Linked DNA regions of Homo sapiens: region 1 is linked to region 2. Evidence: fine-mapped expression QTL. A gene starts in region 2. The other region holds a variant in brackets. All regions are shown on one strand. Distances are between the middles of the regions.

What was found. PIP is the estimated chance that this variant, and not a neighbour inherited with it, causes the effect.
Region 1: its variant is fine-mapped to the expression of KDM4C in thyroid (GTEx, PIP 0.93).

What each region holds. Positions count from the first base shown.
Region 1 is chr9:6,980,814-6,983,736 of GRCh38, reverse strand. KDM4C (lysine demethylase 4C) reads right to left here. Exons shown (of 22, transcript NM_015061.6): 9 at 2,619-2,812. Among named protein-coding and RNA genes, the nearest start is that of KDM4C, 220 kb to the right of the region's middle. The variant C/T (reference allele first, on the strand shown) is at 1,638.
Region 2 is chr9:6,756,655-6,759,577 of GRCh38, reverse strand. KDM4C (lysine demethylase 4C) reads right to left here and starts at 1,605. Exons shown (of 22, transcript NM_015061.6): 1 at 1,375-1,605. RefSeq lists enhancers at 292-511, 1,712-2,071, 2,803-2,923 and silencers at 1,172-1,341, 1,432-1,671.

The DNA.
Region 1 (2,923 bases), 220 kb before region 2:
AAGGTAAACTACTGACTACTTTTCATTGAGTTTTGTATAATTGTCAGGTATGTATGAAAATAGTTCAAATTAAATGCCAATTCATCAATAGCGAAAGGATTTAAAACAGACACAGGCTAACTGGTGTGTGTGTGTGTGTGTGTGTGTGTGTGTGTGTGTGTGTCATAAAGACACTGTCTCACTATATTGTCCCGGGTGGTCTAGAACTCCTGGCCTCAAGTGATCCTCCCCCACTGCCTCCCAAAGTGCTGGGATAACAGGCATGAGCCACCACATTCAGCCTAATTTTATGTATTTAACATCGTACATCAACATACTATTTTCAGAGTGAACACAATTTTTATCTTCTTCCTGAGTATTTTCCAGCAGGTCACTTGATAGCTTTGGCATATATGCTTTTTACATATGAAACAAACATTCCTAACAATTAGGAACAATTACAAATCAACTCAAAGCAACAGTGTCCAAAACACACCCATATGTATTATACACACACAAGAAACCACCACAGGACTAAGCACTGTAGGAAGTCAGGGAGGGCAGAGAATAGGGTGGCCTGCGATAACCTATATAAATTAGCTTTCACTGCTACTGATGGCAGTAACTGCAGTAGTATGATCATCACCATCATTGCTTTTGTTGCAAATCCATGCATTGGCTGATGTGGGAAAATCTCAACATTATAAACAGTGTAGTATATGTGAAAAAAAGAAGGCTGACATGTGCTTGAGACATCAATGAATCATTCCCTTCATCAGACTTCCCTAAATGGGCTATTTCCAAAGGGAGATCAATAATCTCTAAATATCAAGCCACAAGGCTGAGCATATTAAACAAGCCCATAGTCAGGCTTTCTAAGTAGGTGAGCAAGTTCCATTGATTATTTGAACCTACTGACAAGCATTTTGATCTGTTCAAGTGTCATAAATCCATGTTCTCTATCAACCCAAAAGGCCCACTGTGGTTAATACCTGGAAACCAAGTCATACACCTAATGAAAATATTGTGTTTTCCATCCATGACAGAACAATGCTCAAGATGTTCTCCTGGTGTGTATTCTGAACTCAGGATTGGATACTGCCTCCTTCCAGCGCTGGCTTCTTTAGTGCTGTGAATTAACACAGTTATCAAAGACACTGACTGTCCAAATTAGTATTTCTCAAACTTTTCTTGAATGTAACCCACAGTGAGTTATATATTTCAGATAGTGACACTATATACACACATACACACATACTCACACATGTCATGAGTGAATATTTGCCCTTACCACAGAGGAAGCACTATAATACTTTTTATTCTATTTTACCACCTCATTTTAAAATGTTGGTCCTGACCTACTAACAAACACTTTGACGATCATTGCGGTAAACTACAGGGGGAAATATCAACACCTGAGTTAGTTCTGCACCTCAGGTCTACCTCTTATAAGATGCCGAAGTTTGACTCCATGTTCCTAAGGTTCTTCCACTCACTACCACTCTAAATAAGCAGAAAATAAATATCAGGGAAAAAAAAAAGACAGAAAATAAGCATCATAAGTCTGGGCAAAGATGTAAAATTATGGTGTTACTTAGTTAATATCAAAAAAGTGGACACAAGCTACAGGGGATTAAATACATGCAGGCATTAAAAAT[C/T]ATGTTGCAGCAAATCAATCAGTTACATGAAAAAAACACTCAAAACTGATTGTCAGATTATTAACAGAGCATGGCCCCAATTTTGGAAAGATATATAATATTATAAAATATATAATAAATATATAGGTAAAGGATATATACAAAATGTTAATACTGGTTATCTCTGGATAGTGAGGTTATGAGTGATATGGGATTCCTTCATTATTCTTTTCCTTATTTTACAAATTTCCTCCAATGCACAAATATTACTTTTATAATCTGAAAGAAAAACAATGAGTAATATTGAAGAGGAAAATTTAACATAAAATTGGAAAACATAAGACCCTTAAAAGGTAGCCTAAGGACCTGAGCAACACCACACACACCCTATTCAATAGGTTTTAAAACAACAAGATGCCCACAGCACATCTAAAAGCTTTTGAAATGATCCTGGCCACAAAGATGGAATGGAGAATAAAGTTCACAAGGATAAGCATGTTACAGAAATGCTATATGCTGTGTTTTACATCTTACAAAAGAATAAAACCATGTGCATAAAATGTAGTAAAATATAAGCATCCAGAAGAGAGCAGTAGCTCAGATGTTGGACAAATGAAGAAGATAACCACTAAAGCCAAAAAGCAAAATGGTGGCAAAATGAAAAAGTGGAAAATCAAGTTATTGATTAAAATATGGAAATGCACAGAAAGGAATAATACAACCATAAAACACATTCATGTAAGTGGTCTAACAAGTTCTATATTGTTCTATTTGCCATGTCGAGCAACTTCAGGAATATTCTCAAACAAAATAAATATACATCTCTTCCTATATTGTATTTATTACACACCTAAGAATTAAAAATAATGTCTCACATTTTCAGAAAGGTATTAAGTTATGATGAATAAATAGAAAAAGCAAGTAAATTGCCACATCCAATGACCCATTTTAACTGAGAAAACACGACAGGCAAGGCAGGTCAGTGGGGTGAGGGGTCATTACCTTCGGGATGCTTTTCTTACTTTCCTCCTCCTCTGCAGCCATGCTTTTACTTCAGGGGTGGATGCTGGAGTAGGCTTCGTGTGATCAATGGTGTATATATCCTTTCCTTGTTTCCAAAGCTGATATCTGTCTGGCTGAAATTTCCTCACAAAGATATCCATTGAAATCTTCACCATGTCTTTCCTGCAAGTGCACTGAAACACAACCGGGTTGGAGAGTGTTAAACGTTTCGCTAACTATACAGTAACACAGAGTTGGTCCTTGAACACATCATCCATGAATACTTAGTCACTACATAATGGAGG
Region 2 (2,923 bases):
GGATACTGTAAAGCTTATGTGAAAACTTTTCATAACACTGAAATTGGGAGAAAAAGCACCTAAAAAACCCGAACAACCGTGTAATCCGTTCCAAAACAAACTATGGGCGGGTTGCGCGGAGGCCAGCAAGGTAAGAAAGCAAGCGATAATCGCAAAGCAGAGCCGACTGCTTCCTAATAAAAAATGGACCTTTAAAAATTAAAACCACTAGTTTTCAACCACAACACTTCGAAATGAGAATATTAGTCACCGTTGCCATAGAAACAGTAAAGCCAAGCTGCCCGGAATTTAGACATTTTTTTAAATACCGCAAACTGAAATGGGTGAAAATAGGGCAGAGTTTAGTGTGAACCTAAGTGGCCGGAACCTACTAGTAACTTTCACCAGGATAAAAGTGACTCTGCTTTTCTAACCTACATTTCCGAACAGTGCTTTATAAATCACCTCTCGGGGTTAGTTTATCAAGCGCAAAAAAAAGTTTACCTTGTCTCTTCCGGAAGAAGGAACCTGACAAAACCCCTCCCGGTAGTATTGCCCACAATCAGAGCCAGCCAGCGCAGGCTTGCACCGCGCAGCAAAGGGGGAGCCCAGCATCAAGTCCACGCGGAAAGCATCTGAATCCCGGCTGCTGGCTTTACTGGCGGAGCACAGAGGAAAACCCCAAGCTCCTGCCTACAGCCCCGGCCTGTCTGGCTCCCTCCTCCACGTCCCCACTCCACGCCACGTTCTGTGCCTGGCAGTCCACGCGCCCTAATCCAACTCGCATTTATTTAAGCACCCGCCGTCTACACCGCATCATGGTTCCTCCAGGCACTGCAGGAAGAAATGGCCCCATGCCGGGGGAAAGAAACACCAAAAGGACAGCCGCGAGGGCTGAAGACGACCCCGAATGACGGGATGACTGCCTGCAACGGGTGGTCAGGAGAGGAGCTCCCACCCTCACCCCGCGGGTCGTGACACTCCCAGGGAAGGGAGGGCCCCGAGGGGTGCACCAGGCCCGGCCTTCCTGGAGTCCGCCACAGCCGACTGGCGGCGTTAAGAGGTCCGCATCCCAGGACCGCCCGAGCGCTCCTCTGCCCCAAGGAGGCGACCCCGACTCCGGATCCCGGGAAAACGGCGAGCGCGGGTACCGAACCTCGGTAAGGGCCGGAGCGGGCTGTCACCGGCCCCCGCATCCCTCCCCTGCGGCCGCGGCCGGCCGCTCCCTCCCCAGCTTGACAGTCGCTGCAGTCACGGACGGAGCGTCTCTGCCCCAGCGTCGCCGCTCGCCCGGACGCCCGCACCCCCGTGCCCCACGCGGAGGGGGGCAGTGCCGGGAAGACCTCTCCGGACCCTCCCCCCGCCCTGGCCCCCAGACTCCGGAAAAGCGGTTACCTGGCGCGCGGGTTGGGGCGAGAGCACGACTCGGTGGAGGAGGAAGAGAAGACAGTGGCCTCCGGCCCAGGGAGATTTGGGAAATTTGGGAGACTTGTTCCGCACTAGGTGACAGCTGTTCGCTGCGCACGCGCACAGGACCCCGGCCGCCCGATCACTGCGCCGCGCCTCACCCTCCCGTCGAGGGGGTGGGTGGGAGGCAGCGGCGAAGGCGCGCGCACCGCCGGCTCTCCCTGCGCGAGGGCGCGCGCGCCGTCACGTGACCGCTGGGGCCCGCACTTGGTGAGTCACGTGGGCTTACAAACAGCTTAAAGGTGCCCGGCACGCTCTTGCTTTGGGCTCAACTTCCGCGCTGTGGTTAACTTAGGCTTGCTGGCGCGCATCTTCTTGTCCTTTGGACACAGGCATATCCCATTCTTTCCGGAGGGGAAAGATACTCGCGTAGAAGGAGAAAACAGGTGCACAGAACCTTGCCCGGAAGCGCTGGCTGGGGTCCCGCAGGGCTGGACCTGATGTAGTCCACGCGCCACACGTCCTCCTGGGCGCCGACGCGCACCTATGGCGGCCTCCGACGCGCGGACGTCAGCGTGGCGTTACCGGGGTGGAGCCTCGGAATGTACTGGAGAGCCTGGCGAGAAAGTCGGGGCTCGCAGCTCTCCGGCGATGACAGCGCTGTGTTCCCGTTCTCCCTTCACCCGGTGGCCGGGACCACTGAGCCTCCTTCCCACAATGGGAGATCCCGAATAGGCGAAGAGTATCTTCGTGTCCCAACCCTTTAACAACTACCGCGCAGGAGCGTGTCAGCCTCTGGAAGCAAAACTGTCCGGTGTTGAGTCACCTACACCCAGCACGTCCCGCCCCGACCCGCCCAAGTGTGCTCTTAAGATAGGGAGGCACAAAGGTGACCCCAATAGGAATCCTGGGCTGGCGGTCCCTCAGAAACTAGAGTTGATAACAGTTTGGCCAGAACTGAAGTGACTAGAAATGCAGGTGCCTCCAGCGTCTGAGACTAGATAAGTTAACTTCCTACAACTTGTTGCTTTTCCTCTGTAACTCCGCCTTCCGAGGTGTCAGAAGGAACCAACCAGACCTTAAGCCCCTGTACTGCCAAAGACAGATGGTTGAGCATCAGATGTTTTGCAAAGCTGAATGATTTTTTTTTTAAACTTCCTACAGAGCTCCCAGCTGGGTCCCTTGTGGCGTTTTCTCTAACGTCTTAGCTAAGAAAGATTGGGCATATCTTCACACCAGTGAGCAAAGTTGGGCTAATATGCTGAATTTTCTGTTACATTATACTGATAACAGAATTTTAAAAATATATCGACACCGCTTACCACGCGCTTGAACTCGTTTCTCACTGGGGTGAACATTGTGAGGACAGATGGAATGTGATTAATTGAGCTAAGGCTAACGGGATTATTGGGTCACCATATTTCTTTAGTTGTTAAAAACAAAGTTCCGCTACACACACAGACACACTCTTTTTTGAGACGGAGTCTTGCTGTGTCGCCCAGTTTGGAGTGCAATGGCGCTATCTCGGCTTACTGCA